Linked DNA regions of Homo sapiens. The protein of the gene in region 1 purifies or fractionates together with the protein of each later gene. This does not show direct contact. Each region holds a gene or a part of one and is shown in the gene's direction. Other genes may lie near its edges. The genes, in order: WARS1, CALU, MVK, CTPS2, HERC4, FLNC and CPOX.

The links.
Region 2: the proteins of WARS1 (region 1) and CALU fractionate together in Homo sapiens (co-fractionation; one large-scale study listed by BioGRID). This does not show direct contact.
Region 3: the proteins of WARS1 (region 1) and MVK fractionate together in Homo sapiens (co-fractionation; one large-scale study listed by BioGRID). This does not show direct contact.
Region 4: the proteins of WARS1 (region 1) and CTPS2 fractionate together in Homo sapiens (co-fractionation; one large-scale study listed by BioGRID). This does not show direct contact.
Region 5: the proteins of WARS1 (region 1) and HERC4 fractionate together in Homo sapiens (co-fractionation; one large-scale study listed by BioGRID). This does not show direct contact.
Region 6: the proteins of WARS1 (region 1) and FLNC fractionate together in Homo sapiens (co-fractionation; one large-scale study listed by BioGRID). This does not show direct contact.
Region 7: the proteins of WARS1 (region 1) and CPOX fractionate together in Homo sapiens (co-fractionation; one large-scale study listed by BioGRID). This does not show direct contact.

What each region holds. Positions count from the first base shown.
Region 1 is NC_000014.9:100,361,848-100,365,347, reverse strand, and holds part of WARS1 (tryptophan--tRNA ligase, cytoplasmic), read left to right. Parts: intron 1-3,426; coding exon 3,427-3,500. UniProt on the Homo sapiens protein: Catalyzes the attachment of tryptophan to tRNA(Trp) in a two-step reaction: tryptophan is first activated by ATP to form Trp-AMP and then transferred to the acceptor end of the tRNA(Trp).
Region 2 is NC_000007.14:128,759,859-128,763,358, forward strand, and holds part of CALU (calumenin isoform a precursor), read left to right. Parts: intron 1-3,500. UniProt on the Homo sapiens protein: Involved in regulation of vitamin K-dependent carboxylation of multiple N-terminal glutamate residues. Seems to inhibit gamma-carboxylase GGCX. Binds 7 calcium ions with a low affinity.
Region 3 is NC_000012.12:109,580,294-109,583,793, forward strand, and holds part of MVK (mevalonate kinase), read left to right. Parts: intron 1-1,101; coding exon 1,102-1,257; intron 1,258-3,500. UniProt on the Homo sapiens protein: Catalyzes the phosphorylation of mevalonate to mevalonate 5-phosphate, a key step in isoprenoid and cholesterol biosynthesis.
Region 4 is NC_000023.11:16,688,670-16,692,169, reverse strand, and holds part of CTPS2 (CTP synthase 2), read left to right. Parts: intron 1-549; coding exon 550-630; intron 631-2,568; coding exon 2,569-2,720; intron 2,721-3,500. UniProt on the Homo sapiens protein: Catalyzes the ATP-dependent amination of UTP to CTP with either L-glutamine or ammonia as the source of nitrogen. Constitutes the rate-limiting enzyme in the synthesis of cytosine nucleotides.
Region 5 is NC_000010.11:68,072,484-68,076,646, reverse strand, and holds the start of HERC4 (probable E3 ubiquitin-protein ligase HERC4), read left to right. Parts: upstream 1-1,363; 5' UTR 1,364-1,503; exon of another isoform or gene 1,504-2,960; 5' UTR 2,961-2,990; exon of another isoform or gene 2,991-3,460; 5' UTR 3,461-3,538; coding exon 3,539-3,764; intron 3,765-4,163. UniProt on the Homo sapiens protein: Probable E3 ubiquitin-protein ligase involved in either protein trafficking or in the distribution of cellular structures. Required for spermatozoon maturation and fertility, and for the removal of the cytoplasmic droplet of the spermatozoon.
Region 6 is NC_000007.14:128,850,906-128,854,405, forward strand, and holds part of FLNC (filamin-C), read left to right. Parts: coding exon 1-38; intron 39-326; coding exon 327-455; intron 456-495; exon of another isoform or gene 496-549; coding exon 550-723; intron 724-1,685; coding exon 1,686-1,847; intron 1,848-1,922; coding exon 1,923-2,126; intron 2,127-2,379; exon of another isoform or gene 2,380-2,492; intron 2,493-2,563; coding exon 2,564-2,716; intron 2,717-2,809; coding exon 2,810-2,932; intron 2,933-3,068; coding exon 3,069-3,311; intron 3,312-3,500.
Region 7 is NC_000003.12:98,590,812-98,594,922, reverse strand, and holds the start of CPOX (oxygen-dependent coproporphyrinogen-III oxidase, mitochondrial precursor), read left to right. Parts: upstream 1-1,311; 5' UTR 1,312-1,418; coding exon 1,419-1,974; intron 1,975-3,767; coding exon 3,768-3,911; intron 3,912-4,111. UniProt on the Homo sapiens protein: Catalyzes the aerobic oxidative decarboxylation of propionate groups of rings A and B of coproporphyrinogen-III to yield the vinyl groups in protoporphyrinogen-IX and participates to the sixth step in the heme biosynthetic pathway.

The sequences.
Region 1 (3,500 bases):
TCAGCCTCCCAAAGTACTGGGATGACAGGTGTGAGCCACCACGCCCGGCCCGACTTCCGACACTTTTAACTCCTGTTATCTGTTATCTTTTCAAACACCTTGCTTGTCACCAGATTGTGTCAACCATCTCACATTCCCCAGTAGTTTACTTTGACTATTTGGGACCCTGATTTAAATCATTATTTGTGTGTGTGTGTGTGTGTGTGTGTGTGTGTGTGTGTGTATTTTTTGAGACAGGGTCTCGCTCTTTCCACGTTGGAGTGCAGTGGTGCAATCCTAGCTCAGTGCACCCTCAAACTCCTGGGCTCCCACCTTAGCCTGCCAAGTTGCTGGAATTATAGATGCAAGCCACTGCACCCAGCTCATATTTTAAATGAAATAAATAGTACTGAAAGAAAGTAATGTCAAAAAAAAGTTACTTTTTTACAGAAAGAGATTTACTCACCAGGTAGGCCTCAAACGATTAAACCAAGTTGTTTTAAAACAAAATTATAAAATAAATAAAAGACCCAGTGGGGTTATGTAAGCCCATCATTTTGGGAAGTTGACAGTGGTATTTTTGTCCATTTAATATTAAATTTGAATAACATTTAGTAAATGTTTTTAGTTAGTAATTCTTAGTGACTGCAGTTATGTTCATTATTTTAGTCAACTTAATACATTTTATAATAACTCTTCCAAGTGTATTATTTGACTAATGCAATTGGCTGGCACACGTTGAAGACATCAGAGGTTGCACAATGAGACCAGAGTTAAGTGGTGAAAAATTCAGAAGTACATTTGTATCTGACCCTGAAATGTCTTGGTAGTAGAAGCACTTGATGTTTTGGAAATTTTAAAAATTAACTTTTAGCAAAATAGTGTGAGCCACATTGGGAGTGCCAGTTCTAAGAGAGGGCACCTTGAGCTCTTTCTTCTCCTGCCATTTATCTAGGCCATGGACCTTGAAGGTCTTTTCTGCTCCAGTGTATCTAAAGAATAAGATCCACATCCTTCAGTAGCAGCAGCTCATTAAAGCGGCAAGTTTCCTAGGGGGAAATAAGTCAGCATCTGAGGGCTGTGAGGGGAAATAGTTTGAGCAGGACTAAAGAAGCAATGCTAGGTCTTAGGTATTAAGAAAGAGAGCAGAGCCTTTTTCTTCTTCTCCTTTTTGTTTAAGTAACTTCTAAAATCAAAATATACCATTCATATAGAAAAACATGCTGATCATAAGCACAAGCAGGCACCTCACTGAATTTTCACAAAATGACCACACCTGTGTAACCAGCACCCAAATCAACAGCAAGCAGAGAGCACCTAGAAGCCACCCTCACGCGCCTCAGCCTCTGCCATGACTCCTCCCACCAGGGGTAGCTCTACCTGGGTTTGAACTGTATGTAATACAGTCTTGTGTCTGGCTTTTTTTTCTGAACATCAGCTTTTGGCGAGGCTCCGTGGCTCATGCCTATAATCCCAGCACTTAGGAGGCCAAGGCAGGAGGATCGCTTCAGGCCAAGAGTTTGGGACCAGCCTGGATAATATAGTGAGACCCTGTCTCTACAAAAAATTTAAAAATTAGCCAGACATGGTGGCACACACCTGCAGTCCCAGCTACTCAGGAGACTGAAGTGAGACCCTGTCTAAAAAAAACTGATGTTCTGGGTTTTTTGTGGGGTGGGGATCTCACTTCATCACCCAGGTTGGAGTGCAGTGGTGCAATCTCGGCTCACTGCAACCTCTGCCTCCCTGGCTCAAGCAATCCTCTGACTTCAGCCTCCCGATGAGCTAGGAACACAGGTGTGTGCCACCACACCTGGCTAATTTTTTCTATTTTTGGTAGAGACAGGGTTTTGCCATGTTGCCTAGGGTGGTCTCGAACTTATGAGCTCAGGCGATCCGCCCGCCTTGGCCTCCCAAAGTGCTGGGATTACAGGTGTGAGCCACTGCACCCAGCTAACATCAGCTTTTGAATCCTGTTTCAGTGTCCTGGTTCAGACACTGATTAAGACTGATTATAAGAAAATAGACAAGGTAAGCCTGCTTGTCTTATTTTGGTGCTATTCCAAAATGCAGATGGTCCTTGAGCAGGGACATTGGTTAAATGTTTGACTTTCGCAGAGCCTCCTAGTTACAAGCAGAATTAGACCAGATAGAGTATGAAATGTCAACAAAGCTAGTTATTAAGTGATATTGACTGCAGTGTACTTCAAAGCAAGGTAAGCCTTCCCATAGATAATTGGATAGATTATACGTACTAAACTGTTATTTTTTGCAAGTACTGAGCCTAGGTACTACAGAAATGAGATGGGTGGAACATACTTAACTATCTAACCTGGGCAAACATCTCATCTATGAATCGTATCCATTGGGTTACTGATTCCACAAATCTGGCTCATTTTAATGATGAGTCTCAGATAATTTTGTAGTTTGAAACACAGATTACTCCAGAATCACAGTCCTTTATGGCCCAAGTGCTATATCTGATGGAATAGTTATCTCTGAATGGAGGTTGGTGTTTATAGAACATTCTGTATATGGTAAAAGGAATTTAAGGAGATTTAAAAGAAAGAATGTTCTGTATAAACTGTAAGTGGAAATGTTTGTATTTCCCTTGGTAAGCAAATTGGGCTGTGTATATTCTTTGTTTGTGATCTAATCCAGCAAGGCCAATTACCAGAATAGAGCTTTAGGGCATAGCATGACTAATCAGCTTAATTAGGCCTGCTTTTCTAAACACCAGGCTTCCAGGGGTGGCCACTATGGACTCCTGCAAAAGAGTCTTTAATACATTTCCAGACTACCCAAGGGTACATTTTACCTTTGTTTTTTTTTTTTCAAGATAGTTTGATAAGACTCCAAAATGTGATGATGTAACTATTTCCCAGTGAATCCCTCCTTAATTTATAACCTGAGAGCCTACATTTTTTGTCCTTGCTTTTATCTGTTTTAGTTGCTCTTACTATCCTTAGTGGCATCATTGGTTAAGTTAACGTAAATATTCATCTCAACCTGTGTGGTATGTAAAAACTAGTTCCAATGCAGAACTCCAGGAATCTCAATTAAAGGAGCTTGTCACACACGTTCTCTGGCATCAGTGGTGTTTGAGAAATCTTTAGCATATGAACTTTGTCATAAATGACAGTGTATATTGTGTCACTGCTACTGTCCCAAAGTGTTCATGGTAGCACTAGAATAACAGATAAAAATGAAGTGTTTTCGAGCCAATGACTTGCTGTGATTCTATGGGTAAGCTCCTCTACCTCTCTGAGTCTCAGATTCTTGAGCTGGAAAAGGACAGTGACAACAATACCTGCCTTGTAGGGTTGTGACACTAACTAAGGTAACACGTGTAAAAGCATTTAACACAGTGCCTGCCACAGAATAGGCATTCAGCACATATCAGCTATTAGTAATACTTTTAGCCATCCCTTTTATTTCCTCTCTCAGGATGAAATTGATTCTGCAGTAAAGATGTTGGTGTCATTAAAAATGAGCTACAAAGCTGCCGCGGGGGAGGATTA
Region 2 (3,500 bases), on another chromosome or scaffold:
CTCTGCTTTTAGTGTTTTTCTTAGAAAAGCTGAGAAGCTTTGAAAGGTGTATTTGCTGGCTGGGCACAGTGGCTCATGCCTGTAATCCCAACACTGGGAGGCCGAGGCGGGCAGATCACCTGAGGTCAGGAGTCCAAGTCCAGCCTGGCCAACATGGGGAAACCCCGTCTCTACTAAAAATACAAAAAAATTAGTTGGGTGTGGTGGCGGGCGCCTGTAATCCCAGCTACTCAGGAGGCTGAGGCAGAAGAATCGCTTGAACCCAGGAGGCGGAGGTTGCAGTGAGCCGAGAACACGCCATTGCACTCCAGCCTGGGCAACAAGAGTGAAACTGTCTCAAAAAAAGAAAGAAAGAAAGATGTATTTGCCCATAGAAACAATTTACTCCAAGGGTCAATTCTCACTAGCTCATTAGCTGTCACCAGATCATTAACCAGACCAGTGTGATAGTGGGTTGTGATAAAGTATCCGTAGCCACATTGCCCAATCAAAATATAAATGTGAGCCCCATATGTAATTTTAACTTTTCTAATAGCCACATTAAAAAGTAAAAAGAAACAGATGAAATTTCAGTAGTTATTTAACCTAATATTCTAAAACTCTATAATTTCCACTTAATGTAAATTATTGAGGGTTTTTTTTTAATACTTAAAGCACATCCCAGCCACATTTCAAGTGCTTAATAAGCACCTGTGGCTACCATCCTCAACAGCACAGATATAGTGTATCCTGCATGCTCTATGGAACTGATGGTAAAGAGTTGCAGGGGGCTGGGCACGGTGGCTCACGCCTGTAATCCCAGCACTTTGGGAGGCCGAGGCGGGCGGATCACAAGGTCAGGAGATCGAGACCATCCTGGCTAACACAGTGAAACCCTGTCTCTACTAAAAATACAAAAAATTAGCCGGGTGTAGTGGCAGGCGCCTGTAGTCCCAGCTACTGGGGACGCTGAGGCAGGAGAATGGCATGAACCCAGGAGGCAGAGCTTGCAGTAAGCTGAGATCATGCCACTGCACTCCAGCCGGGGCTACAGAGCGAGACTCCGTCTCAAACAAACAAACAAAAAAAAGAGTTGCAGGGAGCCCAGACTGACATAGGGAAACCCAGGGAAAGGAGATAGGGAATAGATTAAAAGATGGATAAATAAATGACGGGGAGTTGCTGATCCCTCTTGTAGCCATTCCTTTTTACTGTGTTCTGTTCATATTTTCTCTCTGATTCTCTGACTACTTTCCTTTTGTTTTTTAAGTTTCTCCCTTTTGACATTTCCCTTTTTAGTTGTCTAAATTTTTTTAAAAAAATTGTTTTGGATGTCACACCTTCAAGGCTAATTTCTCCCAAGTAAAGCTCTGTTTTATTATCATCAGACTAATTTTAAGATATTCTCATTGCTTTAAAAAAAAAAAGCTGTCTTTCTTACCAAGTAGTTGAGCAAATTGTTTCCCAATTACTGTGACAGAAATTAAAATGAGTAAAGGAGCTGGGTGTGGTGGCATACCCGGTTACTTGGGAGGCTGAGGCAGGAGGATCACTTGAGTCCAAGAGTCTGGACTATAGTCACAAGTTCATCATCAATATGGTGACCTCCTGGGAGCAGAGGATCACCAGGTTGCCTAAGGAGGAGTGAACCGGCCCGGGACAGAATCAGAGCAGGTCAAAACTGTGCTGATTAGTAGTGAGGTTGTGCCTGTGGATAGCAATTGTACTCCAACCTGAGCAACATAGCGAGACTCCATCTCTTTAGAAAAGTGAGTAAAGATGGAAAGTATAAGACTGTTACTACAAATGTCATTGTTACAAATACTTTGTTTAGAAAGATATTAGATATTTTAATATTTCACATACTTATTGTCATTTGTAATAACTTATTCTAGCACACCATTGGTTTTGTGTTTCAGATAAGCCCGTTTGTTTTTAGACCTCTGATAGTTACCTGAAATGTTTATTTGAAGCCTGAAAGGAAGACTTAATCCTTACCTCTATCACCTGTCATTAAACTGTATGGAGCAAGTCACTGCTTTACTTAGATGTTGTCTTATCATACCTGTTGTTTACATGCTAGAGTTATTCCAATTGAATTACTCCTTGACTGTTTACCTCCCTTTTCTTAGGTTCAGTGGCATACTTTGAACTTTTTAAAGAAGGATGAGCAATGGAAGATAGGATGGATGTTTTCCTAAACTGATTTTTTTTTTTTTTGGAGAAGTTTATCAGGACAGTGGATAAGTGCCTAGGTGCATTTACTGAGCCCACGTTGATGTTACTAGGGTTTTCTACTTTTAAATGATTTATCTTTTTATTCTTGGCTTTTGCCATTTTATTGCCATTGCTAAAACTGAGGAACTCATTTGAACCTCCCAAGGAGAGGAATTTTTATAACTGTTAACTACATCACTTATCAAGCATTGAGGCCAAATAAGGAGATATTTCTGTCTCCCTGTGTATCATATAGATTCAAGGGCAGAGGAGTTATATTTTGAAGCTACCAAAACTATCTTGTGCATGTGTGCTTTTTTTTTTTTTTTTTACAAGTCAGTAACTAATGCAAACACTTTTACATCTGGGATGCTGGGCTTTGTAAATCTAAAATTCTCCCAAACAGTATCTTTCAGCTTCTAGTGCCCTGTTGAAGGAGATCATGAAGAAACAAAGTTCTTCGCCTCATAAATTTAGCATTAAAAAGAAGCCCCATCAGTGCCTGTGGAAACATAGGGAAAGAAAAAAAAAAACACCCAAAGTTGTGCTGATAATTATTTTTATTTTTAAAATTTATTATAGAGCATTGCAGACGTACACAACTTATTTGTTTATTTATTTATGTTTTTTTTGAGACAGTCTTGCTCTGTCACCCAGGCTGGAGTGCAGTGGCGTGATCTCCACTCACTACAATCTCTGCCTCCCAGGTTCAGGCGATTCTTGTGCCTCAGCCTCCTGAGTAGTTGGGATTACAGGCATGCACCACCACACCTGGCTAATTTTTGTATTTTTAATAGAGGCGGGGTTTCACCATGTTGGCCAGGGTGATCTTGAACTCCTGGCCTCAAGTGATCTGACCACCTTAGCCTCCCAAAGTGCTGGGATTACAAGTGTGAGCCACTGCACCTGCCCCCAAATTAGAATAGTATAATGAATCCCCATGTACCTATGCCTAACCTCAACAACAATCAACTTACAGCCAGTTTTTTCTCAGCCACATCCACTTCCTTGCTTCCTTCTTACTTTGAAGTAAATCCCAATCATTATGTCATTTCATCTGTAAACATTGAGGTATATATGTCTAAAATATATATGTGTTTCTAAAAACATTTTTTTAAAGATAATGTCAACCCAAGAAAATTAATAATACCTTCAAATCATCAAATAGACTGAGTCTTTTAAAAATAGAAATTCGGCCGAGCATGGTGGCTCATGCCTGTAATCCCAACACTTTGGGAGGCTGAGGTGGGCGGATCACAAGGTCAGGAGTTAGACACCAGCCTGACCAACCTGGTGAAACCCCG
Region 3 (3,500 bases), on another chromosome or scaffold:
AGTCTCACTGTGTTGCCCAGGCTGGTCTCAAACTCCTGGGCTCATGTGATCCAACTGCCTTGGCCTCTGAAAGTGCTGGGATTAGAGGCATGAGCGACTGCACCCGGCCCCAGCCTCTCTGTTGTTGTTTTTGTTGTTTTTGTTTTTGTCCAGAACCCAAAGGGAAAAAAACCTCAAGGGGGCAGCCCTTCCCTTGAGCAGCAGATGCTGGCTCAGTGGCCAGGCTCTATGCTGAGGACACATTCGGAAACGGCCTGATACTTGCCGTCCGAAGCAGAATTTCAACTTGAGAGAGGCATGTCCCCTTAAGTGGGTGAGGGGCATTCCAGAATCTTCCAGGCTGGGTGGGGTGGGTACGTGGAATTTGAAGACGCACATTATTACAATTTTTCTATTTGGGAAATGGGAAAAGCACTTCGTGGAAATTACCAAACATGAAGTTTGACAGTTCTTGCTTGGGGGAAATACATGTAAGATGTAGCGATTCGGACCTTTCTGGTGATCAAAAGCAGACCCGTGTTACACATGGTTGGGGAGCACCGTCTGGCGGGAGAGGCCCCGGTGAACACACAATCCTAGTGTGCGGTGGTGAGGCAGCGGTGGAGGGAGGGAGGGCAGGCGGGGGTCCTAGAAGGGGAGCCAGGAGGGTCTTTGTGGGCAGCTACGGAAAGTGTCACAGTGGAAGCGACATTTGATAAGGCCTTGAGAGATGGGTAGGGATTTCTCTGTGGGATAAGGAGGTGCACGGCTATTGCAGGCAGAGGGGCCAGCCTGTGCTCAGAGCAGGCCCACAGAAAAGCCTAGCATGTGGGCACAGGAAGGAGGTGGGAGAAAGGGGTTGACAGCTTGCCAGGTGCTTCTGGGAAGGGCTCTGGTTGAATGACCCAGGGATTTAAATGAACTTGATACCTGTTTTCTAGTTGTCTGATTCAGCATGAGTTCCTGATGTTCAATAGGGATACATTTGGGGTCAGGAATTCTCCCCCAGTTGAGAAAACTGGACCAGATGCTTGGAGTCAGGCCTGGGCCTGGCCCCTGGTTCAGTGCTGGCACCCCACTGCCCTGCGGGAGAGTCACGTTTCACACCCTGGTGTGTTTCAGGGCCCTGCCGAGCCTGGATATCGTAGTGTGGTCGGAGCTGCCCCCCGGGGCGGGCTTGGGCTCCAGCGCCGCCTACTCGGTGTGTCTGGCAGCAGCCCTCCTGACTGTGTGCGAGGAGATCCCAAACCCGCTGAAGGACGGGGATTGCGTCAACAGGTAACCATGGTCCTTACCTGGCCAGTGTCCCTCCCGCACGGCAGGACAGGGACGTGGCTTCTCTCACTGAGACCTCACCACCTCCCTGTGAGGTGAGAGGTGTCATAGTGGCCATTTTAACATGAGGAAGCTGAGCCCCGAGAGGTCAAATGGCTGGCCCAGGGCCACACAGCTAGTGCTGGCAGAGTGGGATTTGAACTCAGAGTCTGAGCTTTTCTCTCCTGCTCTCCACCACCTCTGCTCACCCCCATCTTGGCTCTGTTGGTTTCAAGCGCCCATGGTATGGTAGAAAGAGCTGGAGTCCAGATCTAGAGGGCAGCAGGTTAGATGAACCCTCCCACCTCTGCATTGACTCAGGCTAGGACAGTGTTCTCCTCTGTATGGTAATGACAGTGCCCTAGGGGTGATTGTCCAGTTTTACCACATGGTTATGAAAGAAACTAAGAGTTTGCTGAGAAATCCACATTAGGGGGTGTGCCCATTAGACTAGGGCATCTCTCCTCCTACGGGGCCGTCTCCACGGAGGGCGTGTCACCTCTCTGCGTTCCTATTGACCACGTGAGTCAGTGAGGCCTGTCCAGACAGGCTTGACCACAGACCATTTCTATCATTAGGAGAATGTTCCTTGAGAAACCACCCAGTGCGCAGAGGTTACGCAGTTTGTCCCAGGACCAGGAGTTGTGGATGAGGCCCCCAAATGCAGAGCTCTGTCCTCTTCCTGGGCTTGTTTTTGTTTTGTTTTGTTTTGTTTTCTGAGCTTGGTTTTTTTGTTTGTTTGTTTGTTTGTTTGTTTGTTTGTTTTTTGAGATGGAGTCTCGCTCTGTCACCCAGGCTGGAGTGCAGTGGTGTGATCTTGGCTCACTGCAACCTCTGCCTCCAGGTTCAAGTGATTTTCCACGGGCCAAAGGACTGGCCCTGTCTTTCAAAAGGTGGAGGGTGACTGTGTGTGTGCACTTGCATGTGTGTGTGTTCTTATGCTGCTTCTAACCATTTCTCCCACCTTCCCCTGAAGGCCAGTCATTCCTTCTCAGAACCCTTAGGGAGAGTAGACCTCCCACCCCACCCCACCCCACCACACCCCACCCATCATGTGTTTCTGAGTCGGAAAGGACTGGAGCCCAGTCTCCTTTGAAGACTCAAATCTGAGCCCCCTAAAAAACAAACTGTGTAGAGCAGGAGGAAGACTCACATTTGTTGAGAGGGCCAGGCCCTGGGCTAGGTCAGCTGCCTGAGTTACCTTCCCCCGCCTCCATCACTCACTTCATCCCAGGCACGCTGCCACCTGTTGGTCCCTGGGAAGGGCCAGCCAGCTCTGGTGTGGTTCCAGTGCTGCACAAGTGGTGTGTCTGGAATGCACCCCACACACACACCTTGCCCAGCTGGCTCCCCTTGTCCTTCAGGCACCACCACCCCGCCCCAGCCCCCAGCAATTCAGCCCATCGTACTCTTACAGAAACACCTGGTTTGTTTTTGTTTTTGTTTTTTTAACTATATTATCATTTATTAAATGTAATTAGGTAGCTCTGGATCCTTGGTCTGTTTTTTTTTTCTTTTATTATTATTATACTTTAAGTTTTAGGGTACATGTGCACAATGTGCAGGTTAGTTACATATGTATACATGTGCCATGCTGGTGTGCTGCACCCATTAGCTCATCATTTAGCATTAGGTATATCTCCTAATGCTATCCCTCCCCTCTCCCCCCATCCCACCACAGTCCCCAGAGTGTGATGTTCCCCTTCCTGTGTCCATGTGTTCTCATTGTTCAATTCCCACCTATGAGTGAGAATATGCGGTGTTTGGTTTTTTGTTCTTGCGATAGTTTACTGAGAATGATGATTTCCAATTTCATCCATGTCCCTACAAAGGACATGAACTCATCATTTTTTATGGCTGCATAGTGTTCCATGGTGTATATGTGCCACATTTTCTTAATCCAGTCTATCATTGTTGGACATTTGGGTGGGTTCCAAGTCTTTGCTATTGTGAATAGTGCTGCAATAAACACACGTGTGCATGTGTCTTTATAGCAGCATGATTTATAGTCCTTTGGGTATATACCCAGTAATGGGATGGCTGGGTCAAATGGTATTTCTAGTTCTACATCCCTGAGGAATCGCCACACTGACTTCCACAATGGTTGAACTAGTTTACAGTCCCACCAACAGTGTAAAAGTGTTCCTATTTCTCCACATCCTCTCCAGCACCTGTTGAGAAACACCTGCTTTGAAGTCACATATTGC
Region 4 (3,500 bases), on another chromosome or scaffold:
CTGCTCTTATTTTTAGTCTAAACAGTGATGTGTCCTTATAGCAGGTGATCCAGTCATCACCAGTAGTCTCTGTCAGAGGTTGACAAATAACAGCCCACAACTTGCTTGCCTGTTTTTGTAAGTAAAGTTTTATTGGCATGCAGTCACACCCATTCATTTACATATTGTCTGTAGCTGCTTTCACACTGCACCTCAATTGAGGATCAGGACAGTGACTGTGTCACCTGCAAACCTAAAATATTTCCCATCTGGCCCTTTTGAGAAAAAGTTTGTTAACCCCGATCTAGCTCTTTTCTTGTAGTTAATGAAGCAACACTTGTGAGCCTGGACTCTGTTCACCAGAGACGTCTCGATGTTTCGAGTTCTTACTGATACACTTATGCTGAATTTGATTATACTTATATTAGTGCTCAGACCAATTTCTAATAGTCCAGTGGAATGTCCAAAGTGAACAAGTACATACTTGGCCAAGTTTCTTGTAAAAAGAAATGAATGTGGCATCCTGCTGAAAGTGAATCCTGTTTGCTGAAGCATAACTGGCTTTGACAGATTGTCTGCCGAAGTTCAACGCCCATTGAGATGGCCGTGAAGGAGAAGATTTCTATGTTTTGTCACGTGAACCCTGAACAGGTTGGTGCTGCTCTTTAGATTTTATTGTCTGGCAGGCACTTCTGCTGATGCCAGTGTTTTGTACCTCTTCAATGATCATATTACTTTTCACGGCATTTATGCAAGCACTGGGGAACCCTGATCCAACCATGATTCCCTAGCCCTTAAGTGAGATAGGATGCATGTTTCTTTGCATGATCACTCAACTTATGTCACAAAACCAGGGTGGGCTTTCTTTTCTTGAGACAGAGTGTCACTCTGTCACCCAGGCTGGAGTGCAGTGGCATGATCTCAGCTCACCGCAACCTCTGCCTCCTGGGTTCAAGCAATTCTCTTATTTTAGCCTCCTGAGCAGCTGAGATTATAGGCATGCGCCACCACGCCTGGCTAATTTTTTTGTATTTTTAGTAGAGATGGGGTTTTGCCATGTTGGCCAGGCTGGTCTCGAACTCCTGACCTCAGATGATCCGCCCGCCTCAGCCTCCCATAGTGCTGGGATTACAGGCGTGAGCCATCGTGCCCAGTACCAGGGTGGGTGTTTAACTCACAGTCAAACCTCTAGAGAGAGAACCACATGAAGCCTACTTATCATCTCTTTATCTTGTGTTTCCTTCTGGAACACTTACTGCTTTCACTCATTTCTCCTCTCTACCTGTGGCAGCTTAAGTCACCCCAAACACACGAGCACGTTGACATTCGCACTAGCTCTTCTGACTCCATCAGTGGGCTCAGTTGACTTCATTGGTACAGAAACTGTACTGTGATTTGGGCTTAGGTTCTCTGCTCTGTAGGGCTTTCCACCTTGGTATTCTGATAATTCGCTTTTCTTTTTTCTTTCCTTCTCTCATCTCTGTCTCTTGATTCCAATAAGGCTTGGTTATAAGGGATTGGAGTTACCTATAGTTTAAAGAGAGTGATATAAATGGTGCTCAGGAAAAGGGTGAGGTTTGGCAGAAATCTTTTCTTCAGATTATAACTCTGGGTTCTCTGAAGTCTAAAAATGATCAAATTGAATTTTGGCATCTTGGAAAATAGTCTGATGGAGAGCCCCCTGCCTGATGCCTCAGAGTCATTGCCGAAGTCTGAACTACTTTGAAAAATGTGATGGCAGATTGAAGGGACACTTCTGCATCTGTATGTTGATATGTTGTCATGCCATTTTGTTTGCGTCCAATCTTTTTTTTTTTTTGAGACAGAGTTTCACTATTGTCACCCAGGCTGGAATGCAGTGGTGCACTCTTGGCTCAGTGCAACCTCTGCCTCCTGGGTTCAAGCGATTCTCCTGCCTCAGCCTCCTGAGTAGCTGGGATTATAGGTGTGTGTCACCATGCCTGGCTAATTTTTGTATTTTTAGTAGAGATGGGGTTTCACCATGTTGGCCAGGCTGGTCTTGAACTCCTGACCTCAGATGATCCGCCTGCCTCAGCCTCCAAAAGTGCTGGAATTACAGGCGTGAGCCACCACACCTGACCTGTCCAATCGTTTTGTGTACACTTCTTTTTTTTTTTTGAGATACAGTCTTGCTCTGTCACCCAGGCTGGTATGCAATGGTGCGATCTCGACTCACTGCAACCTCCGCCTCCTGGGTTCCAGCGATTCTCCTGCGTCAGCCTCTTGAGTTGCTGGGATTATAGGCACATGTCACCATGCCCAGCTAATTTTTGCATTTTTAATACAGGTGGGGTTTCACCATGTTGGTCAGGCTGGTCTCGAACTCCTGACATCAGGTGATCTGCCCGCCTCGGCCTCCCATAGTGCTGGGATTAGTTTTCTAATTAAATGAAGCTAACCTTGTGCAAATTCTGATGCTAGCTTTGGTTGCTGGGTTTTTGTGTGTGCGTGTGTGTGTGTTATATCAGTGTAAATAAACTGCCAGTCTCTGCTGAATTTTGTTTCATTCTTGTGGTGGCATATTTGAATAGATCCATCTAAGTATGGTGATTTCTCATCGCCACTTAGGTCATATGTATCCATGATGTTTCTTCCACATACCGAGTTCCTGTGCTTTTAGAGGAACAAAGCATTGTGAAATATTTTAAGGAGAGATTGCACCTGCCCATCGGTGATTCTGCAAGTAATTTGCTTTTTAAGTGGAGAAATATGGCTGACAGGTAAGCGAAAGGAATTACTTGTATAATCTTTAATAATTTTTGAGTTTGGGGGTAGAACTAAGACCTACTTGAAAGGGTAAGCGTGTGTATTTGGCATTTTGCGTGTGCACATTTTGGTCTGGATATGTCTAAAGATGGAGCATACTGTTGCGGTGCTTTGCTGTATTATTTGAAGATTTCTGGAGCCTTTGATTTTGTTATACATAAACCAAAGTGAATTAAAGGAATTCGAATTCTGGAAGGAATGTTTTTTTAGCTCTGGAAGGATTCTGATTTATTTGATTTATTTGCTAGTTCATTTTTTAGTTTCTGAATATTTAAAATTTTTTTTTGTTTGTTTTCTTTTTTCTTTTTTGAGAGTCTTGCTCTGTCACCCAGGCGGGAGTGCAGTGGCACGATCTCGGCTCACTGCAACCTCCACCTCCTGGGCTCAAGTCATCCTCCCACTTCAGCCTCCTGAGTAGCTGAGACTAGAGGCACACACCACCACACCCGGCTAATATATATTTTTTTTTTTTTGTAGAGACGGGATTTTTCTATGTTACCCACACTGGTCTTGAACTCCTGGGCTCAAGTGATCTGCCCACCTTGGCCTCCCAAAGTGCTGGGATTATAGGCATGAGCCACCATGCCTGGCCTTAAACAGTTTTAAACTTCACAGGTTTTTTGTTTTGTTTTGTTTTGCTTGTTTTTAAGATTTGGCTAACTTTTCCTAAAGAAAATCATTTTGGATGGGAACTTTTGGCTATGCTAGTTTTGTTTCATCCTGCATTCATTAAC
Region 5 (4,163 bases), on another chromosome or scaffold:
GAAGCTAGCAGAGAAGCCTGGAAAAGATTATCTCTCAGAGACCCCAAGAGAGAACCAAGCTTACTTTCACCTTGATTTTGAACTGGTCTTCAGAACTGTGAGACAATAAATTTCTGTTGTTTTAAGCCACCGAATCTGTTTTAATTTATATGGCAAGCCTAGGACACGAATACACACACTTGAACATATTCTAGCACAGACAGTTCTTATCTAAAACATGTTTTTCAACAAGAGATAAAGAAACAGGCCAGGACCGGTGGCTCACGCCTGTAATTCCAGCACTTTGGGAGGCCGAGGCGGGTGGATCGCCTGAGGTAACGAGTTTGAGACCAGCCTGGCCAATATGGCGAAACCTTGTCTCTACTAAAAATGCAAAAATTAGCCGGGCATGGCGGCGCATGCCCGTTGTCCCAGCTACTCAGGAGGCTAAGGCGGAAGTTCCAGTGAACTGAGATCGCACCATTGCACTCCAGCCTTGGGGAACAGAGCGAGACTCTGTCTCAATAAATAAATAAATAAATAAATAAATAAAAATAAGAAAAGAAAAAGAAAGATGGCCTATTTGTGGAACTTCTTCTAGGTACTGAATATTCATTCTAGCAATACCCAACTTACAATTTCAAAAGTGCATTGTTTCAAGTTCTCCTGCTTTTTAAGAAGTTAAGGCTGGCCTAGGAGATCCAGACTTCGTTTTTATGAATCAGGGACTGCAGCCAATGTGTAATTTTCTCTGATAGAATGAGACCCTGCAATTCAAGCCTATCTTTCAGGGAGAGTGTAGAAAGTGATGGTAGCCAACACTGTACAAGGAAACTGAACTGGTGGTGGTGGTAGTAGAGTAGCTTCAGCCATTGCCATCAACACATCTCACATCCTCAGACTGGCTCCAGTTGAGGCCATGGGATAAAATAACTCTTCACCAGTCTTTATGTTCATAATTGTGATGTTTCATCTGCTACTTTAAAATCTCCTTGGGAAAAGAGAGAGTAAAATAATAAAAAGACTAGCTAGCATCCATGAGCACAAAGACAACCAAACCAAAAAACAAAGTGATTTTCTTCATTAAAAGGCTTTGTGCACGCCGAAGCATTCTCAAAAACAGTTGACATCTTCTTCGTTTGTCTTCGCAAACTCCAACTTTCTGTATTTGGCTTTTCCCTCTTAAAGCAACGCAAAGCGGCACACTGCGCAGGCGCCTGTGGCCAGCCACCCCCCCCCCCCCCCCCCCGGAAGATTCGGCGCAGGCGCCGGTGCCGGGGCCGGGAAGTGGGCGGGCTCGCGCGCGTGCTCTGCGGTTCACTTCCGGCCAGCCCCTCCCCCGCCTCCCTCGCGTGGCCACCTCCCCCTCTGCCTTCTCCTACCCAGTCTCTTCCCCAACTCTCCCCACCCCTGGTGCTCTCCGCCCCGCTTGCCTCCCGTTCTTCCCCGCCCGCTCCATCCGGGTCGCTGACGGCTGTCTCTGGACTGGACAGCAGTGGCGTCCGCTTTTCTCTAAGGAACCCGGTAAAGTTTCCCAGGGGCCGGGGAGGGGAGCAGCGGAGCAGCGGCACAGACGCCGGAGGTGCCCTGGTGATCGTCGCCACTGGCTGACAGAGGAGGGTCCCAGGAGCCGGAGACGTGCTTCAGCGACCGCGCTGCCTTGCTCTCTGGGCAGGGGCCGCCCCCCGTCACCTTGGGCTTCCCCTACCCTGAAGGGCTTGGGCGAGTTGTGGCCCCAGCGGGTTCGGGGGCGTGTGACGGCGTTAGGGAGGGGCAGGCCGGGCTGGGCGGATGCAGGCCGGCCCGGCATAGGGCGCTTTCTCCGCGCTTCCTGGGGGTGAGGGGCGTGGGGCGAGGGCAGGGCTGTGGCTCCCTGGCCCCGGGGCTGGAATGTCTCATCTGCCTGGGGATGGGCTTCTCTCAGGTTGAGGCCGCGCACTGCCAAGCCTCGGCCGCCGGCCTCTGAAGCTGTTGCGAGCGGCCGGTTGCGGTAGTCGTCTGCTTGGCTGCGAGGTTGGGTGTGTGCAGATGATTTCTCTTTCCCAGTCCCCATGAGCTGATCTGGGTGCACGTTCAGGGAAAGACGGGACTAAACTGCTTCTCATTTCCCTACCTGTTGCTGGCGAGAGGACGCCTCTGTGTTTTAAAGAAAAGGGTGGTTAAACCTCGCGCGCTGAAGTCGGGGTATTTTCCTGTATTACTCTTATTTTGTTTTTAAATATGGGAAGACAATGCAGAACTCTTGGGAATTATCGAGTTCTGATACCCCAAAAGAATGAAATCAAACTTCTGTTAATGGGATGATGGGTCGTGGAATGGGACACCTTGGGCACTTGCTAACAGGAACATAGGAAAATTGGAGTTGAAACTTCGCAGGCTCTGTAAGAATGTGGATGACTGCTACAGAATAAGGCTGACTTCCTGTAATTATGATATTTAGTAACGCGATGTGTTTAAAAGTCTACGTATGTATAGATGAAGTGGACTCTGTTATTTGTGTCTTTCTTTACAAGTGAGGAAATATTCAGTCAGTGTGCTGGAAAGTTCTACAGATTTCGCCATCAGACTATCCATTCCTATTCTTGAAAAATCTGCAGTGCTGGAGTTATTTGCAATTCCCCCCCGCCAATCTTTAAATAATTGTCTCAGAGATATAGATAGATATAGATTGCCCACGGGTGATTTTTTTAATCCCGGTTACCACTTGTAATAAAAGAGGTTGAATTTTGGAGAGAATTGATATTTAAATTGCATGTTTTTTTTTCTGTATTATAATTATGCACATTGATTTAGTTTTAAAATTAGTGAGGTTGGAATGTTAGTATTTTGATTTGAAATCTGGGATCTTTGGAGGTGATTTAAGATTATGGTTTGGTAAGAGAATCTTCATTTTCTCTCTGGGCTAAAGAGTAATTGGGAGAGTCGTTTAAATTGTGGAAAATTGCTTTAAATTTCCATTATTGGTTTTATTTCTGTTACAGATAAGAACTCCATTTTCTGTTGATGTGGAGGTAGGTATTAGAAAGCTTAATTATACTAGGATTGCAAGGTTATGTTTCTGCAGTTGGCTAAATTTTGCACTGTGTATATTTGCTTTTTGGGCAGAGGAAAGATGTCTTATTTCTTGTTCCCATTGAAATTATTTAAAGCAAAAAGTAGAAAAAATTGTGATTAATTTCATCAAGGTACTTATTCCTATTAGTTTAGTCTATCACAAGATAACCAGAAGTCAAAACTAGTTAATATGTTTTAAATTTTGCAAAGGATCATAGAAAGTGTCATATTTTCCCTAAAAATTTCTGTATGATACATTTTAAAAAATACAACTGATTGGTTTTTGAAACTGAATGATACTTATGTAGCATGTTATAAAGTATATTTAATGTTTACCATGTAGCAATTATTGTAGCCTAGCACTTGAAAGAGCAATTATACATCCTTTTTTCTTTGAAGTCATATTAACTTCTTTCTATTTCCTCAGACATAGGGTACCTCCAACTTTCCGGGGTTTCAGAAGAGAATTTTTTATTGAAACTGGAAGACCAAAATAATTACAAGCATGTTGTGCTGGGGAAATGCATCCTTTGGGCAGCTAGGTTTGGGTGGAATTGATGAAGAAATTGTACTAGAGCCCAGAAAAAGTGACTTCTTTATAAATAAAAGGGTCCGAGATGTAGGATGTGGACTCAGACATACTGTGTTTGTTCTGGATGATGGAACAGTGTACACATGTGGATGTAATGATCTAGGACAGCTAGGTCATGAAAAATCCAGAAAGAAACCAGGTAAGTTGAAATGTTTTTAAAATTTGCTATTTTTAATAATTATATCATTTTAAATTTGAATCATCGTATAATTTCTCTAGTTGTAACTATATGTTTATCAAGCTTTAAAAGCAAAGTAGAAGTTATGTATTTCCATTATATGTGTATATTTGTATGGTTCTAAGTACTTTATGTTGTGGTTTCTTTTTTTTTACTACTAGTATTATAAAACCTTATTTTGTATGACGATATAAAACAATAAAGAAAATCAGCCTGCAGTATATAAATCTTTGGTACAGAGTGTGTAGTGTGCAGGTCCTCTTTAATAAATTCTGTTCAGCCACCCTGGATAGATTTTAAATGCATAATTTACTCTGTGTTTACCTTACTTTGGGAGGGGGGAGGAAAACAAGACGGAAG
Region 6 (3,500 bases), on another chromosome or scaffold:
CCAGATGGGGATCAAGTATGACGGCAACCACATCCCTGGTGAGTTAGGGGCTGGGCTGGGCTGGGGCTTGGGTGAGAGGAGCAGGCCGTAGCTTCAGTCCTGCCTTCCCTCTTTCAACAAATATTTATTGAGCACCCGCTGTGTGCAGACACCAGGCGAGGCCCCAGGGAGGCTTATACCCTGGTGGGAAGCAGACCTCCACCAGCTGGGTCCCTACGGCACAGACGGAGGGGGTTGGCAGGGAGGCTGCTGGAAGGTGCTGGGGCCAAGGTGGGCTCAGATAATCCCTGATGCTGACCCAGCCCCCTTTTTCTCTGTATCCCCAGGGAGCCCCTTACAGTTCTATGTGGATGCCATCAACAGCCGCCATGTCAGTGCCTATGGGCCAGGCCTGAGCCATGGCATGGTCAACAAGCCAGCCACCTTCACTATTGTCACCAAAGATGCTGGAGAAGGTGAGGGAGCTGCAGGTCGCAGGCTGGGGTGGAGACTCACCAGGGGCAGGGGTGAGGGCAGGACCTCTGATCTTGGCCACACCTCCACCTACAGGGGGTCTGTCACTGGCCGTGGAGGGCCCATCCAAGGCAGAGATCACCTGTAAGGACAACAAGGATGGCACCTGCACCGTGTCCTATCTGCCGACTGCGCCTGGAGACTACAGCATCATCGTGCGCTTCGATGACAAGCACATCCCGGGGAGCCCCTTCACAGCCAAGATCACAGGTGAGGCGGGTGTATGGGCATGTACAGCCCATGAGGCACACACACCGCATACAGTGCACTCATGTGCAAGCCCAGCCCGTTCAAGTCACTCGTGACATTAGGGCAGAGGCCCTTCAAGGTGTGAGGGGTCATATTTTGATAAATGTAAAAACACTCTGTTCTCCACGGCAGCTAAGAAGCAGTCAGCCACTCCTTGTGCCTGAAAACACATTGCCTCATTTAGTCTTTGAAGTCATTTGTTTTGTTTTTGTTTTTGAGAGGGAGTCTTGCTCTGTCACCCAGGCTGGAGTACAGTGGCACGATCTCGGCTCACTGCAACCTCCGCCTCCCGGGTTCATGCCATTCTTCTGCCTCAGCCTCCCAAGTAGCTGGGACTCCAGGCGCCCGCCACCATGCCTGGCTATTTTTTGTATTTTTAGTAGAGACAGGGTTTCACCGTGTTAGCCAGGATGGTCTCGATCTCCTGACCTTGTGATCCACCTGCCTCGGCCTCCCAAAGTGCTGGGATTACAGGTGTGAGCCACCACGCCCAGCATGAAGTCACTCTTAAGAAGTTAGGGCACGGATAATCCTTTTGATAGATAAGGAACCCCTGTCCCAGAGAGGCCAAGCAACATGATTACAGCCACACAGCGAGGAAGGGGTCTGGGCGGTCCAGTCTAGTGTTTTGTTATCACAACATCATGTGACTCAGGGTTAAAATGCAGGAGGTTTCCTTTAGGGATTTAGCCCACAAGGACTGAGGCAGCCACAGTGGAATTGGGGTACAGGCCCCTCTTAGTCTCTGGCAGCTCACATGTGAGTGCAGACTGCACTTTCCAGGCCTTGGGCCTCCGTGCACCTGGGAGTGGCCCCCCGTGTCTGTTGAGTCCAGGGGGGGCTGCTCAGGAGGGTTCCTGAGCCCTGTGAGGGCAGGGCCTGCCTGGAGTCATAGCAGCCTGATGCCCCAACTCCCCCACCAGGTGATGACTCCATGAGGACCTCACAGCTGAATGTGGGCACCTCCACGGACGTGTCACTGAAGATCACCGAGAGTGATCTGAGCCAGCTGACCGCCAGCATCCGTGCCCCCTCGGGCAACGAGGAGCCCTGCCTGCTGAAGCGCCTGCCCAACCGGCACATTGGTGAGCGTGGGGCCTCACGGGGACCTCAGGGGTGGGGGCCCACAGGATGCTCTGCCTAACACCCACTTTCCACAGGGATCTCCTTCACCCCCAAGGAGGTCGGGGAGCACGTGGTGAGCGTGCGCAAGAGTGGCAAGCATGTCACCAACAGCCCCTTCAAGATCCTGGTGGGGCCATCTGAGATCGGGGACGCCAGCAAGGTGCGGGTCTGGGGCAAGGGGCTTTCCGAGGGACACACATTCCAGGTGGCAGAGTTCATCGTGGACACTCGCAATGCAGGTACCTCCTGCCCCAGAGAGCCCCCATTCCAGCGGGTGCCTCCCACAGGCACTTGTCCTCGTCCTGCCCAGCACCCCCTTGGCCGCACTCTCTCCTCCCTGAAACTTCCTGACCAGTCTGCGTCAGGATTCGCATTCTGGGGCCCCTTGCGGGAAAGTGAATGGCCCCGCATCAGTTCTCTCCCTTTTAAGAGAAAGCTCAGCTGTCCTGAGTTTCTGTCCCTCCCTTGCTCACTGGAATCCAAGAGGCTTACCTTAGGGAATTTTCCAGACCGCCTGTCCCGTGGTGCCCCCGCTCCTCCCACTGAGCCATTTTTGTTAGTGGTCACTACACACATCGGTGCCCATTCTGGGTGGAGCCTGCAGTCTGGGGAGAGGAAAGCATTGTGGCTTGGCCAGCCTAGGACTGAGGGAGATGTGTTCCTTGCTTTCCCCCAGGTTATGGGGGCTTGGGGCTGAGTATTGAAGGCCCAAGCAAGGTGGACATCAACTGTGAGGACATGGAGGACGGGACATGCAAAGTCACCTACTGCCCCACCGAGCCCGGCACCTACATCATCAACATCAAGTTTGCTGACAAGCACGTGCCTGGTAAGGCTCTGGGCAGAGGTCGGTGGCGAGAGACAGGGAGGCCAGGAGGCTGGGGCTCTGAGGTTCCTGACCCACCCTTTGTCCCCACTTCAGGAAGCCCCTTCACTGTGAAGGTGACCGGCGAGGGCCGCATGAAGGAGAGCATCACCCGGCGGAGACAGGCACCTTCCATCGCCACCATCGGCAGCACCTGTGACCTCAACCTCAAGATCCCAGGTAGAAGCCTGGAGGACCCTGGGTGGGGCGGGTGGTGGGAGAGGGCTGGCCCGGGCCAGAGCCCACCTGTCGGGCCTCCACCCTGCTTCCTCACCCCTCGCTTCCCTCCCTCACCCTGGCTCCCTTGACCACACAGGAAACTGGTTCCAGATGGTGTCTGCCCAGGAGCGCCTGACACGCACCTTCACACGCAGCAGCCACACCTACACCCGCACGGAGCGCACGGAGATCAGCAAGACGCGGGGCGGGGAGACAAAGCGCGAGGTGCGGGTGGAGGAGTCCACCCAGGTCGGCGGGGACCCCTTCCCTGCTGTGTTTGGGGACTTCCTGGGCCGGGAGCGCCTGGGATCCTTCGGCAGCATCACCCGGCAGCAGGAGGGTGAGCACCGCACACTGGGCCGGCCGGGTCCTCACGGCGGGATGGGAGGGTGCTGCGGACCAGGCTTGATGCTGGCAGACTGGCCCCGAAGGCCAGGGCAGGTCTGAGCAGAGGAGGAGGTTTAACTGATGGGGGAGGGAAGGGCCAGGGCTAGGAGGAATCCCAGTGTTGCCCTGACATCCCCCAAAC
Region 7 (4,111 bases), on another chromosome or scaffold:
TATCTACTACTAGAAATTAAAATCATCCCGGAGACTTATGGGACAAATTAGCCCATGACAATAGTTCTCACACTTTTACGTCCAGGAACCATGGAGCTGTGGTATGGTTACAGGGGAGACAAAGACCTGCCTGTCAAATCTATTAGCTTCTTTCCTCATTTCTTTAAAGGGTGGGGGAAGGGAGACAGAGTAGGAGGAAGTGTGGATATTTGCCTTGCCTAGTTTGTAGCAGTTGTTGTAAGTATTAAACGTGAGCAATATTTGGGAGCACCCTACAGTAGTAGAATAACTATTTTTTAAATTCTTATTTGTTAATCACCAAAACACACCAAGTCAGGAATTTTCTACTGGTTAACCAAAACAGTCACGTTGCTTTTCCTTTTTCTAAAATAATCAAGTAGGCACTATAGAAGCAAGGCCTGGGGAAACCTTTTTTTTTTTTTTTTTTTTCTGAGACAGAGTCTCACTCTGTCACCCAGGCTGGAGTGCAGTGGTGCGATCTCGGCTCACTACAACCTCTGCCTCCCGGGTTCAAGCGATTCTCCTGCCTCAGCCTCCCGAGTAGCTGAGCCTACAGGTGCACGCCGCCACGCCCGGCTATTTTTTTGTAGTTTTAGTAGAGACAGGGTTTCACCATGTTGGCTGGTCTCGAACTCCTGACCTCATGTGATCCAACCGCCTCGGCTTTCCAAAATGCTAGCATTACAGGCTTGAGCCACCGCGCCCGGCCCCAGCCTGGGGAAATCTTAAGGACAGAACTGTGATGTGGACTCGATCACAGAAAGTCTTCTCCTCGACTCTCTTCCGAGTCCATTACTAGCTTCTCCCACTCTCTTTAGAAAACCATCCTTCAGCAAAGAGTTTCCCAGCCTGCCCATCCCCTCTAAAAACTCTAGAGGACCAGGACCCAGGGCGAAGGGCGGGTCTATACAGATCCTGAGCCAGGCTCTGTATTCGCAAATCCTGTTTGAAAATGTAAGCGGGACTGGGATCTCTGCCACATTTCCGCCCCAGTCCGCCCTCAGCCTCCCAGCCCTACTCTATCTTCTCTCCTTGGCTGAGTAAACAGCCGACCCGAGGTTGTACGTGACAAGAAAGCCTCTTTTATCTCTCCCGTCCCTTCCACAGCACCGTCCCCGCCCCACTCTCTTCCCTTCGGACCAGCCCTTCTGGGCGCGTCGGATTCTTATCTCCCGCCCCGCGCAGGGACGCCGCAGGCGGCGATAGGATCCGGACTACAGCTCCCAGCGCGCCCCAGTTCCCGCCCCCGCCTCCGGAGCCCGACGCTGCAGCGGCTCTTCTCGAAAGGTTCTTTCCGCCTGTGCAGCTCGCCGGCTCAATACTCCGGGGGTCTGGGTGGGGGGCTCAAACGCAGGGCTCTGGGACGCAGGCACTGCTCCAGGTGATAGTGCGGGAACATGGCCTTGCAGCTGGGCAGGCTGAGCTCGGGCCCCTGCTGGCTCGTGGCGCGGGGCGGCTGCGGAGGGCCCCGCGCCTGGTCCCAGTGCGGCGGCGGAGGGCTCCGAGCCTGGTCCCAGCGCAGCGCAGCCGGACGCGTCTGCCGGCCCCCTGGCCCGGCTGGCACGGAGCAGAGCCGCGGGCTGGGGCACGGCTCGACGTCGAGAGGCGGCCCCTGGGTGGGGACAGGGCTGGCCGCGGCGCTGGCGGGGTTGGTGGGGCTGGCCACCGCCGCCTTCGGGCATGTGCAGCGGGCGGAGATGTTGCCTAAGACCTCGGGGACGCGGGCCACTTCGCTGGGGAGGCCGGAGGAGGAGGAGGATGAGCTGGCCCACCGCTGCAGCAGCTTCATGGCCCCGCCTGTGACCGACCTGGGCGAGCTGCGAAGGAGGCCGGGCGACATGAAGACCAAGATGGAGCTGCTGATTCTGGAGACCCAGGCCCAGGTGTGCCAGGCTCTGGCACAGGTAGACGGGGGCGCCAACTTTTCTGTGGACCGGTGGGAGAGGAAGGAAGGTAAGGAGGCCGGCCCCTGGCGGGAGTTGGAGACAGGGAAAAAGGGTCAGGTTCCAGGTTGCAGACAGAAAATATAATAGTTCACAATATGGGATGGGGTAGGTAGGGGGTACCCACAGAGAGGCCGCTTGGTTAGAGGCCGCTGATAAAAAGATGGACACGAAAGGGTCACTAGCCCTCTGCTTGCAGGTATGGACCCGGATCAGCTGTCACTGTAGTACTGCATTTCAAAATCTTTGCAATTCCGTAGCAGCATTTTTTTGTAGAACTCTTAAGGGGTATTTGCAGCTAACAAGCTTAGATGTCCAAAGTTCGTTACTGAACATAAATTTCAATAGATTATGGAACACATTTTCTCTCCTTCTCTGGGTGAATTTGCCCTTTTTCCTCTTTAGGAGATGGAAAGAACTCATCTCCTGTGCGCTAAGTGTCGGCTAAACTCCTCCAGCCAGGATGTCATTGTGTCAGAATCTTCCCACTTCTTTTTACTGTTACACAAGATATATTTGATTCGTTTCTCAGTAGCACTACCAAATGCACGCATCAGATTTCCTGCTAGGAAAATCTTCTCTTCCAATATCAAAATACTTGAGCATCAAAACCCAGTTCTCGTAGAGGCGTACATTCATGACCATGTTGTTGCCCATACAGTGAAACCCCACATCTTGAGTGGAAACTTGAAAGATTCCTGACTTTTCCTAGCTGGAAATACAACAGCAGCTTCTCACCGGCAGATTTTGAGCTGTGATACTGACACATCTATATTAAATGAAGTTCAGTCTAGTTTTCCATCTTATGTTTTCAAGCAAAGACCACTGAACCAGGACACAACCTCAAGTACTAGACCAGCTGTGTGATCCTCAGAAGTTACTTTTTTATGGCTGTTTTCCCATCTATGAAATATATATGTATTTCATCTCTTTTAATCCTCATACTACATATATATATATATATATCCATATACATATATATATATATATATGGATGGAATATATGTGAAGTGCTTAGAATATTGTCTGAAGCATAGACAGCATTTAGACAAATTGTTGCAGCCACTTGTCAGCAGTTTGATCTTGGATAAGATGTTTTGCCCCTCTGGTCCTCAGTTTTCTCATTTGGAATATATGAGGGTTGTACTGGATCATCTTATGTCCCATCCAGCTCTAAATGTTCTTAGAAATAAAACAAGCCAAACATGAACTTTCATGAAACATTGCCCTTGCAGTGACCCTAATACCTTAAGAAAAAAAATTAGTAAGGCTGATACACGTGAATACTAATGTGCGTCTCACTCACTCTAAGGTTCTGAATCCCTTCAGAATTTGATTACCTACTGTTTCTTAATTGCTTGTAAATTAAAAGGCAAGCAGCCCACTGAGAAAGAAATTTTTGAAACAATATAGATCTCTTAAATTCAGTAATAATAGAACACCCTTCAAGTCTACCCATTCCTATTTTTAACCTTAGCTTTCTCTCATATATCATAACTGATAGATGCCATTCTGAACAGTAGAATCTGAAGGGAGAATATTCCAGTGATTTATTTTAGATGATGGCAGGAGAATGTTGAAGAAATATTCAGTTTAGTGATATGAGAAGGTCTAGTATTTGCCCAATATTAATAGCATATGTCATAAAGCTAAGCTAGTTATCTAATTGTATTGTACATAAAATGATAAATACACTGATATAAAAGATTTGGGAAACGGGAAAATAACCATCTTCATGCAAGTGTTGCTTTCAGTTTTGCACATACTCTTACATTCTCTCCTTTTTTACATTTCTATACACAGGAGGTGGCGGCATCAGCTGTGTACTTCAAGATGGGTGTGTTTTCGAAAAGGCTGGGGTGAGCATTTCTGTTGTTCATGGAAATCTTTCAGAGGAAGCTGCAAAACAAATGAGAAGCAGAGGAAAAGTTCTGAAGACTAAAGATGGTAAATCAGACAGTCTTGATAGTCTCTAATAGTCCCTGCAAACCTTATTTTGCCCACAAGTTTTATTTATAAAATAAATATTGCTTCTGAAAAAAGCCATTCGGGTTCATATGCCGCACGTTGACAAATACTTTTTTAAAATTATGTTTTTAAGTGACAAATTAAAAAGCAGCTTTTGAAAATTGACTTGGAAATCATAT